Homo sapiens: one gene and its partners. The protein of the gene in region 2 interacts with the protein of the main gene of each other region in a pairwise test. Each region holds a gene or a part of one and is shown on either strand. Other genes may lie near its edges.

Region 1 (4,285 bases), on a different chromosome or scaffold from region 2:
GCGATTCTCCTGCCTCAGCCTTCTGTGTAGCTGGGATTACAGGTACGCGCCACCATGCCTGGCTAATTTTTTGTATTTTTAGTAGAAATGGGGTTTCACCATGTTAGCCAGGCTGGTCTCGATCTCCTGACCTCAGGTGATCCACCTGCCTTGGCCTCCCAAAGTGCTGGGATTACAGGCATGAGCCACTGCGCCCAGCCTAAAGCCAAACAGTTTTATTCATACTGTATACTTTCATCCCAAGTGCAGTTTAAAACAAACAACAACAAAAACTAGAATCTCATTTTCCAAGATCTGACAATATCTCTGTGGCTTAGTGCAATCTGTGAAGTCACATTGTTTTATTAATACATCATAAATATAAAACCTGACTCATACCTTGATTGGAGAACTACGTGCAGCACTCTCACTATGAATTTATGAGAAAAGAAACTGTTAATAGAATCCAGAAAATGTACTACTAGCTGAGGCTTTGAGTACTCAAAAGCCTATTTAAATACAACAATATTTAAAAATAAGACGTATTCAACATTCGCAAGAAAAATTCAGTTTATTGAGACTCATATTGAACATTTGGCCATGACTGGAAACTGTTGAGTCAATACCATGTCTCTTGATATGGAAAGTCTTCATGTATCACAGAAAAATTCTGGAATCTAGAAAGAACTCTGTTATTAACAAGTCATCTCTAATAACACAAACTATTTCACTGAAGATTAACAACTCAGAGAATAAGCACAAGAGCATTCAGCAAACAAAGTGAAGCATTCTATACACATTCACTTTTCTCTCTATCTTGAAAAGATATGGCATTGAGATATCTTTTCTCAGCTGGGCACAGTTGCTGGCACCTGTAATCCCAGCACTTTGGGAGGCCAAAGTGGGAGGAATTGCTTGAGCCCAGGAGTTTGAGACCAGCCTGGGCAACATAGCGGGACTCCATCTCTATAAAAAATCTAAACATTAGCCATTGTGTCTGGCTAATGTTTAAATTTTTTATAGAGATGGAGTCCCGCTATGTTGGTGCCTGCCTGTAGTCCCAGCTACCCAGGAGGCTGAGGCAGGAGGATTGCTTGAGCCCTAGATACCAAGGCTGCAGTGAACCATGATTGCACCACTCCTCTCCAGCCTGAGTGACAGAATGAGACCCTGTCCCAAAAAGATATTTTTCTCCAGGTTACAACTCCTCCTTAAAGCCCCCCAACCCAGAGTGGTCCTATTGTTTTCTGAAATTCTATAGCATTATCTGCACGACTCAAATGGCAATCATCTAAAATCATCTCAAAGGTTATATTTTTTTGTATGGATCCTGTCTCCCTTAACTTGAGTGTGTGCTCCAAAGGCAGGCACCATGCTTTATCATTTGCATGTGTTCTTGTGCCTGTGGCACACTGGTAATATGTGTTTCAGTCTATGATCATTTTAATTCACTCTTCTATTTCTCCCAATCCTGCTTTTCTCTTGTAACTCTTTCCGTATACCATTCTCTAATCTAGGGCCAAATAGTATTTCATGTTTAAAGTTTGATTTCGACAAAAGTAAATCCACCTCAAAATGAAGTCTTGTAAGCTTAATTTTTAAAAATTGCTGTATTTTCTGAAGATAACATCATAATCCATACGGAATCAATTGTACACCCACAGCGAACAAGCAAAATTATAAAATGTATCTCCATCAGTTCTAAGTGCAGAACATTTTAAAAATCTCCTATTCTCAGGCTAAACATCATAATGTTACACATCTTACCATTTTTGGGTAGGTGTTTGGCTTACGCAAAAGCAGACCGGTTACAAATATAACTAATATTAAGATGAAACCAAATGGTAGCCAGAAACGTAGCAAAGTTTTCTTCGATAGGTCTTCACCTAGGATTAAAAATCACACGGAAAGGGGAAGTGTTAGACATTTGCCACTATTTTTGAAACTGAATTATTTTATAAATACTTCAGAACTGAGTTGAGCTTGGAAACCCCTGTCATATTTGCCAGTGCATAAATACCACAATTGTGTTTGAGTATAGCGTTCCTTTCATTTGTGCAATTTTTATATAGAAAAGTACTTTACTGAACTGTGACATGTCTTATTTTCACTTAGAAAAATAACTTCCCCAAACACAATTCTTATTTCCTGATATGAGTTTGTTTATATTTGACCTTGTGAATTCTCCATTTAAAAATGACAAAATATTAGCCAAGTGATTAAACAAACATGTCCTGTGTGTCTGTCTCTTAACTCTCAGTAAGTCAAACGTGTACTTAGATCATAGGATACTGTACCAAGCAAGAGGTATCCTTCAATAAAAATTCCTGTGTGAGTAATGGAAATCATCTTTTAAGGTTACCTTTTTAAAGTTGTCTCATATTTTAAAGACCAAAGGGAGGGATAAGGTTTTTCTTTTCTTTTTGATTTTGCTTTGTTAGTTTAGGGATGGAGTTTTAATGGTTCTTCTGCATAGCAAGAAATGAGCAATCACTAGGCAAACTTAAAAAGCAGACGAAGTTTGGTCTCCCTAAACTAGTACCTCTCACTTGTTTTGGAGTAATATAAAAGATCTTGAATCTTAGCCACGCATCTACAAAGCTCTCTTGATCCCACCTTTTTCTTTGTCCTATTTCCTCACGATCTTGTTTTCTATTAGAAAATTATCAGTCAAATTCACGTGTTCAGAGAAGATTTACAAGAATATAATCCAGAGAAATTACTGATGTAAGTTATCTGTCATGCAAAATTAACAGTGGGAAGGCAGGAAGCTCCTTTGCTGAAGTTCTACTGGCTTTCCCCATACAGAGTCAATCCTGAAGAGGACATACTTTTATTTCCAAAAATATTATTGTCCTATTTTTCTATAACTTGAAACATCCAATAAGAAATGTCCTAAAGAACTGAGACCACATGCAACTCAAGAAATTCCTTGTTTCTAATTTCAAAGTCATTAAGATTCTATGAAGAGGGCTGGGCACAGTGGCTCATGCCTGTAATCTCAACACTTTGTGAGACCGAGGTGGACGGATCACTTGAGGCCAGGAGTTCAAGACCAGCCTAGCCGACACGGTGAAACTCTGTCTCTACTAAAAATACAGAAATTAGCCAGGCGTGGTGGTGCATGCCCGTAATCCCAGCTACTCAGGAGGCTGAGGCACGAGAATCGCTTGAACCCAAGAGGCAGAGGTGACAGAGAGCCAACATCATGCCACTGCACTCCAGCCTGGGTGATAGAGCAAGACTCTGTACCAAAAAAAGGAAAAGATTTCCCTCAAAGCAAGAGAAATCTTAGGCATCACTATCATTGATAAGATTGCATGTAAAATACAGAAAAGAATATATTTTTTGAGGATATGGCTAAAAACTCACCATAACCACTTTATACAATGCATTGACTAATGACGAGATATAGTTCAGGACATAACTTTAGAGTTTCCTGATTTTTTAAAACAGTAACAAAAATGAAAAACATAAAACTAGTAAGTCTTCTTTCTGATTCCATATAGCTCTTGGTTGAGTTTTCCACTGTCTTGCTATTTTTTCTCCATAATCCTTAGTGATTATATAATCTATTAGGCTTCTCGTTTATTGCCTATCTCTACCCAATTGGAAATAAAATGTAAGTTCACTGAGGGTAGAGATTTCTTTACTGCCATATCTGTAATGCTTGAAAAGAGTCTGATACATAGTAGGTGCTTAATAAATATTTGATGAATGAAAGGGATCAATGATACCACTGTATTCGTAGGGAGATAATAGAGATTCCACTATAGTAGAACAACATGAAAGGAGATGAATGATTGATAGATATGGCAGTATCTGTCTGTATCAGCATCAGTATATTTATTTAGAGCTGCATCTATATCTATGTACCTGAAAGAGCAATGCTGAGTTGATTTCCTTCAATTTTGAACATTTATTAGTAATTTCTACTCTTAAAGCTAATACATTGTGAAGCACAATCACATTTTACCTCATTCTTTAGGCTTTTTAGTTTATATTGCTATGTAATTTAAATGACTTTATCACAAATCACTTTAAATCAGTGTTAGAAGTGAATGGAATGAATATGTATTTTACTATTCATGACCTTTTAATTAGAAAAATATTCCTTTTGAATAGTATTAGACACCCAGAAACAAATGTATGCTGATCTATACTTGCTTTAAGATTTCTGTTCTCTTGAATACTGAAAGCATATGAAAATATTGATTAAAATAAGTTCCTGCCAATCTCTCAAAAGAATGAGCATATTATCTATATTGACAGAAAAACAAGAATTTTGATAATAGAAGTATAACAA
Region 2 (3,650 bases):
CCACAAATACACTAAGGGCCTCTCCCGCACTCCAGCTCTGCCTGGAGCCCAGTTCTCACAGATGCCAGTATCTTTCTAGAAGAACTCACCCAAAGTCCACTCTCCTGTTTCTGTTCTCCTTGCATCACTGCTCACTACTACCCACAATATCCTGGCCTGAAGGCCAACATGCTGGACCCACTGCTGAGATGGCATATGGAGTCTCTGAGCAATGCCCCATGGCTCACCTTGACAGTACCTCTAGCAAATTCTGTTTGTCCCCATAATAAACACATCATAAATCATTCATCTTTAATAGATTATGCAAATTAGGAGGACATAAAATCAACAAAGATCAATAACTGCAGCAGTTTAATTGCCAGCAAAAACATTTTAAGAATGAGCATAATCTGCAGCTCTTTCTTGGGTAATGGCACTATTAATCCAAACAGTGGATCTTGGCCTAAGTGTGGAAAAATCATTCCCTACCCCTATCCCCATCTTCCCTCCCCCACCTCTCCACACACTTGTCTCTTTTTGGTAATTTCCAGTTTCTGAGCGAGTTTCCCCGTCATTACCACTGGTGAACAGCTCCGAATGTTAATGGTTCTGCTTTTGTTACTCCTCGCTTGATTGAAATGTCGCATACAGATTGAGATGTTAGTGCTAACTTGCCACCTGGGAATGTCAAGCTGGGTCTGAAATGAACTTTTCTCACACTTGGATCCAGATGGATCAGCCGGAGATGTTCCCAGGCTGAGCTGGGACTGTTCCAGGGCCATGGGGGGGAGGCGGGTGGGGGCTGCTCAAGGTGGAGGCACTTCTCTGTACCAGCCCCTGGGTCTCCTGTGGCAGGAGCCCTACCCTGAAGATCCATAGCTCCACCCTAGGAAGCCCTTGCCTTCTAGACTATGGCCTGAGCGCTGGGCAGCAGATGGGGTTAGAGAAGTCTCCCGGGTTCTCTTTGAACAGTGCCTGGAGTGGCCATCTTTGGGAAGTGACCACTGTACTTCTGAGCAGGTCAGGAGAAAGGTGGCCTGGCCTGGGCCGTCTCTCTGCCTTGGGTCAGAATACCTAGCAGGTCAGAGAGCTTCCCAGCTGGGCGAAGGATGGCTCATGCTGAGGGCCATTTGGTCATGGGCTGTGTCCTGGCCCAGCTAACCCAGCTAAGGTCGTCACTCCCGAAAGCCCAGTCCAGGTCTCCAACACTTCTAGAATTCAACCTCTGACTCCCTAGCCAAAGATCTAGGCTGGAAACAGTTGTACCAGTACAGCCCCTTAGGGAGAGGCTGGGAAAACTGACAGGGCTCTCCTAAGCCCCCAGGTGGAGGCTGGGTGGCCACTGAGCCCAGCTCAGGCTCAAATGCAGCCGCACTCAGACCAGCTCACAGGCAGAACCAGGGCCCAGTCCTAGAGTGGGCGGTGCCTGTTCCCTGCCTTTGCCGCTGGCTCTGCAGCCCTGCTGCTGGGTCCGCAGGCCACCTCCGCTTGCCTCGCTCTGCAGGTAACGCCTCAGTGTCTCCCAATCCCCACCGAGACCCTTCTCAATCATCCTGTCTCCCAAGGAACAAACGGCACATTGGCTTTAGTGTCTCCAGAATAATTAGGTGAATTTTAATAACACCTCAATGCGTGTCTCTCCCATTTGGGCAGTCTCCTGGCCTGGAAACCCTTCTGCAGTGGCACGTGCATTCCACAGCCTGGAGCTCTGCGGCCTTCCCTGGACTCCACCTCCCCTTCCAAACTAACTGGCCCTGCTGCTCTTCATTTGTAGGGGCTCCTGGCCATGGCGCCCCTAGCTCTGCATTTGATTGTGGGCCAAGCCTGATCCTACCTGGCCTTGAAATCAAGCCTTGGTGTCACTGACCTCTCTGGGAAGCAGGAGGAAGGCTGGAATAATTGTACTCATCTCAAACTCCACAGAGCTGGGTGCCATGCCCTCAAGCCCAAAGCCATGATCACCCATGCTGCCTGGAGGGAGCGGTAAGCGGGTCCCCCAGGAGCCTTGGAGACCCAAGTGTGGAGGCTGGACACTGGGTACCCATGCTCCACTCTCACCAGCCTGGCTTATTTGCTTTCTGCAGACATCCTAACAAGAGGCTCATGATTCTGGGCAACTTGGGAGAGGGAAGAGAAATAGACAAAGGGAGAGGCGAAGGACAGGAGGAAGAACTGGCAACAGCCCCTCCTAGCATCAGCCTTTCCAGGTTGAAGCCCACAGATGCCCTGACCCCAGTTTTTTTCTCCCCACATCTGCACACCCCTGTTCAGGAAGCACCCTGGTTTTAGAAGCCTCGTTCTCTCTGTAAATATCACGGTGGGGGACCTGCTCCTCACACTGGGCCTCAGATGGCATGGGCTGAGGCACCCTCCACTGAACGCAGTGCCCCCACCCTCCTGGAAGCCCCCTTACCAGTCACAACTGGGTATGTCTGTGTGCCTGACACGTTGCTGCCCAGCTCAGGGTTGGTGGATGCAGATAGACTCGACTTGACTTCATCAAGCCCAGGGGTCAGGGCTGGGAGGGAGTACTCGTTCCCCTGGGAGGAGAGAGAAAAGTGACAGCTCTCTATTGATGCACGCACAGAGAAAGGGCTCGGTGTGCAGATGGGGAGGAGGAACAGGGGAGCCCGCCCAGATGGGGTAGAAAGAGATGGTGGGGCAGAGGGGAGATGCGGGGGCTTGGTGGATGATGGCAAGTTTTGTGCGGGTAGTAGACCTGACTTGGTGAAACCGGAGGCACAGCACCCTTTACACATTTTGGGCACTTAATGCCAGCACCCTTTATGTTTCTGTAGCATCTCCTGCCTAAGCACCCCTGCGGGTAGGGTGTAGTAGTGGGGATACCCTTGTTGAGAGGCATGGGATGTCGAGGAGCCTTGGGGAGGAGGGGGAACCATGACATGACTGGCAGAGCCAGTAGCTGGGAGAAGGGCCTAGTGGGGCCTTCAGCCTGGCACTGCTGGCTGATCGGGTATGGGCGCCCCTTTTTTAAAAACAAACAATGACAGCCCCATGGGCCCCTCGCTGTCTGCCTGTGCACTGGGGTATGAAATTGGGGAGGGGGAGAGTCCACATGGCTAACAGAAGGGTAGGAGGGGGCCAGTCATTGACTCTGAAAGGGTGTCCTGCCTGAAACACTCGGGTAATTGCCTTTTTATTGCAGCCACGGCCAAGCCAGACCCCAGAGCTGGGCAGACCGGGAGCCTGCACAAAGCAGGAAAAGTTGCTCTGATTAATATTACGTTAAATTAAAACTGATTTCCTGCTCTTTCGGGTCTGTTTTTTTCCCTTCCGCTTCCTGGCCCCCCTAGAGTACCCCCTCCCCTCCATGGCTGGACGGGATTGCCTCGTCATTTCCAATTCCTTCTCGTATTGATCTTCCTGTAGAAATCAGTTTTGTAATTAGCTGCAAATTAGGCCTTCTACTGGGGGTGAAGCTGCCCCCTGATTTATCACCAGAGTAATTCGCTGTGATCGGAGAGAAATTAAAATGAACTCAATTAGGCTTCGGATTTGCTTTATGGGCCCTGCTCCGAGTTTCAGGGGGAAAAATGACTGTGCTGGTGTTTAATAGTCTAATGAAAGTAAATAAAGGTTATTCATTGTAATACAGGCGGGGACTCAGGGAGGGTGCACTGAGCCGCCCGCCTCGGCCAGCTCCTCCTTTG
Region 3 (3,650 bases), on a different chromosome or scaffold from region 2:
AAGGAGCAGGTTTAAAAAAAAAATGGCCCAGGCGTGGTGGCCCACGCCTGTAATCCCAGCACTTTGGGAGGTGAGGCGGGCGGATCACGAGGTCAGGAGATCATAGCCATCCTGGCTAACACGGTGAAACCTCTTCTCTACTAAAAATACAAAAAAATTAGCCGGGCGTGGTGGCGGGCCCCTGTAGTCCCAGCTACTTGGGAGGCTGAGGCAGGAGAATGGCGTGAACCCAGCAGGGGGAGCTTGCAGTGAGCTGAGATTGCGCCACTGCACACCAGCCTGGGCGACAGAGCGAGATTCCGTTTCAAAAAAAAAAAAAAAAAAAGTAAATTGCATCTGCATGCCTGTTTTCCTGCTAGGCTGAGATGCTTCAGGGCAGGAAATAACCCTAAACACTTTAGTATCTCGTGCTTCTGGATCCCAGTGCGTACTGACTGAGAGGAAGACATTAGAACTAAGCTAGAAAAAGCTGCTTAGGGATGAGATGAAATAAGGCACGTGTAAGAGGGAGAGAGGGAAGGCAATCAGGCTCAGGGAACAGTGAAGCAGAAGGCAAGGAAATGTCCAGAAATTAGGGGGTAAATAATAAGCAGTCATTATTTATCTAATGATAAATAATGAGCAGTCAGCCGTCATTATTTATCTAATGATAAATAATGGTCCCAATGATGAGGGGCTGTCAGGATTGTTTTGGTGAACTATCTTCCTACTCCCCCAGGTATCTTATGTCCATGCTGGGTTCCCCCCGCCACTGAACCATCATAAGCCCTCATTCTGTTGCTTGTTCTGATCGCCTCTGATATCTGCATACAGGTTGAGTATCCTTTTTCTGAAATGCCTGGGACCAGAAGTGTTTTGGTGGGTGGTGTGGGTGTGGGAATGTAGGTGAAGATAGGAATGGAGGCAAAAATGGTTGGGATTCTCTATGATCTGTGGAGCTCTAAGTTGTCTCCTACTTAGCACCAAACCAAGACCTGTTGGTCACTTCCTGAAATGTACCAACTCCTTTCGAAATAAAAGTCAACAGGCTGGGCGTGGTGGCTCACACCTGTAACCCCAACACTTTGGGAGGCCAAGGTGGTTGGGTCACCTGAGGTCAGGAGTTCACGACCAGCCTGGCCAACATGGTGAAACTCCGTCTCTACTAAAATACAAAAAATTAGCTGGGTGTGGTGGTGCATGCCTGTAATCCCAGCTACTCAGGAGGCTGAGACAGGAGAATCGCTTGAACCCAGGAGCAGAGGTTGCAGTGAGCTGAGATGGCGCCACTGCACTCCAGCCTGGGTGACAGAGTGAGACTCCATCTCAAAAAGAAAAATGAAAGAAAGAAAAGTGAACAATGGATTTGAGAAAAGTATCTGCTTAGTAACTGGCAAGATGGTTATTATCCTTTTGAGAAATCATTATTATTTTTTGAGATAGGGTCTCACTCTGTCACCCAGACTGGAGTACAGTAGTGTAATCTAGGCTCACTGCAACCTCTGCCTCCAGGGTTCAGGCATTTCTCCTGCCTCAGCCTCCCGAGTAGCTGGGATTACAGGCATGCACCACCACACCCAGCTAATTTTTGTATTTTTAGTAGAGATGGGGTTTCGCCATTTTGGCCAGGCTGGTCTTGAACTCCTGGACTCAAGTGATCCACCCACCTTGGCCTCCCTAAATTCTGGGATAACAGGCATGAGACACCATGGCCGGCCATTTTTGAGAAATTTTTTCACCGTATGTATCAAATTATTACAATGTTTGTAACTTTGATGTCTCAGTAATACTCTTCTGGAAATCTATTATCGAGAAATAGTCCAAAAGGAAAAAGCTATGCTTATGAAAATTTTTAACTGTGGCACCACTCTTGTGAGTGAAAAATCACAAACAACCTAAATGTTCAGTAGTATAATAATTAAGTAAATGATGATACAGGCTCAGCAGCTCCAATCAAGAAATCCCAAATCCAAAATGCTCTAAAATCTGAAACTGAGCACTGACATATTGCCAAAAGTGGGAATTTCCACACACCAGTACTTGACACAAACTTTGTTTCATGCACAAAATTATTTAAAATATTGTGTAAAATTACCTTCAGGTGGGCCAGGCACGGTGGCTCATGCCTGTAATCCCAGCGCTTTGGGAGGCCGAGGCAGGCAGATCACCTGAGATCAGGAGTTTGAGAACAGCATGACAAACATGGTGGAACCCCGTCTCTACTAAAAATACAAACAAATTAGCTGGGCATGGTGGCAGATGCCTGTAATCTCAGCTACTCAGGAGGCTGGAGCCGGATAATCGCTTGAAACCGGGGGCGGAGGTTGCAGACCGAGCAAGATTCCGTCTCAAAAAAAAAAAAATTACCTTCAGGCTATGTGTATAAAGTATGTATAAAACAAAACATAAATGGACTTTATATTTAGACTTTGGTTCCATCCCCAAGATACCTCATTATGTATATGAAATATTCCAAAGTTCGAAAAAAACCTGAAATCCAAAACACTTCTGGTCCCAAGCATTTCAGAAAAAGGATACTCAACCTATTTGTTATTAACATGGAATAGTATGCCGATATCAGAGGCAATCAGAGCAAGCAACAGAATGAGGGCTTATGATGGTTAAGTGCAGGGGATACCCAGCATGCAGATAAGATACTTGTGTTCCAGTTCTGAACCAAGTGATACCTGATGCTTACAGCATTATTATGAGGACATATATTTTGGACAATGGAGGGAAACTTGTAAACAACTTAATTTGTTGGGAATAATTATAAATGAATGTTAATTTGTTAATCTGTTAATATGAATGGTTTGGATGTGATAAAAAGGAAAGAAAAATTAAAATTCCATTGCATTCTCAAATGAGTTTTTTTCCCCAAAGGCTTTTTGGTGGGGATTGGTGGTAGGTGGGAGCCTTCCTCTTTAAGGTCTTGAGTGGTGAGGGAAGGGTCTAGACTCTATGTGGGCGGGTTATTTGAATATGCAAGCATTCCCCTCTTGTGAGGGAGAGAGGGAATTTGGGTGTGTGTTTTGGGGTGTGGAGGTGTGAAGAGCTAGGGGGAGGGAGGATAGGGAACAAGATAAAATTAGGAAGGATAGGGAACAAGATGAAATTAGGTTTCATTTCTACCTAAGTGGTTGTTCTTAAGCGAACTCAGTATTGAAACTTTATTCTGAATTTTGGTGTGCTTTAGTGCTTAGGTTTGTAAAATTGCTGACCCTCTCTTCCCTTCCCACCCCAGGAAGCAGGAAGGCCAGGTATTTCTGACCAATAAAAATTCTACCTCTGTGCCAAAAAAGTGTCCCAGCACGGGGATTCTGAGAGTATTAGCACCTCAATGAAAGTGATAGACAGAGCAGGGCGATGGATCAGCTTGGGGCTGGCAGTTGCCTTCCTGGTTATTTACTTAATGAATAGTTTATTTCCTTAGCCACCTGTTAAACGTGCCTGGGATGTAGTTGTCAACTAACAAAGCCCCTGATGGACAGCTTCCCTGCTGTCCTGATGCTGAGAAGATTTCTATCTGCAGACTCTTGCATAGACTCACTCTTGGCTGCTCTTCCTCCCTGGGGTCAAACAATGAGATCTCTGTGGTGCATTCATAGTCAAAGCCACTTTATCCTCTGGGATCCAGAGTGTCCTCTGCAGGGATGCTTTTGTAGGTGGCC

What was found.
Region 1: the proteins of PAX2 (region 2) and IL13RA2 interact in a two-hybrid assay, tested with the Homo sapiens proteins (one large-scale study listed by BioGRID and IntAct).
Region 3: the proteins of PAX2 (region 2) and PRDM14 interact in a two-hybrid assay, tested with the Homo sapiens proteins (one large-scale study listed by BioGRID and IntAct).

Annotation. Positions count from the first base shown.
Region 1 is NC_000023.11:115,003,451-115,007,735, forward strand, and holds the end of IL13RA2 (interleukin-13 receptor subunit alpha-2 precursor), read right to left. Parts: intron 1,866-4,285; coding exon 1,747-1,865; intron 657-1,746; coding exon 630-656; 3' UTR 532-629; downstream 1-531. UniProt on the Homo sapiens protein: Cell surface receptor that plays a role in the regulation of IL-13-mediated responses. Functions as a decoy receptor that inhibits IL-13- and IL-4-mediated signal transduction via the JAK-STAT pathway and thereby modulates immune responses and inflammation.
Region 2 is NC_000010.11:100,807,979-100,811,628, reverse strand, and holds part of PAX2 (paired box protein Pax-2), read right to left. Parts: intron 2,520-3,650; coding exon 2,393-2,519; intron 1-2,392. UniProt on the Homo sapiens protein: Transcription factor that may have a role in kidney cell differentiation. Has a critical role in the development of the urogenital tract, the eyes, and the CNS.
Region 3 is NC_000008.11:70,061,199-70,064,848, reverse strand, and holds part of PRDM14 (PR domain zinc finger protein 14), read left to right. Parts: intron 1-3,650. UniProt on the Homo sapiens protein: Transcription factor that has both positive and negative roles on transcription. Required for the maintenance of embryonic stem cell identity and the reacquisition of pluripotency in somatic cells.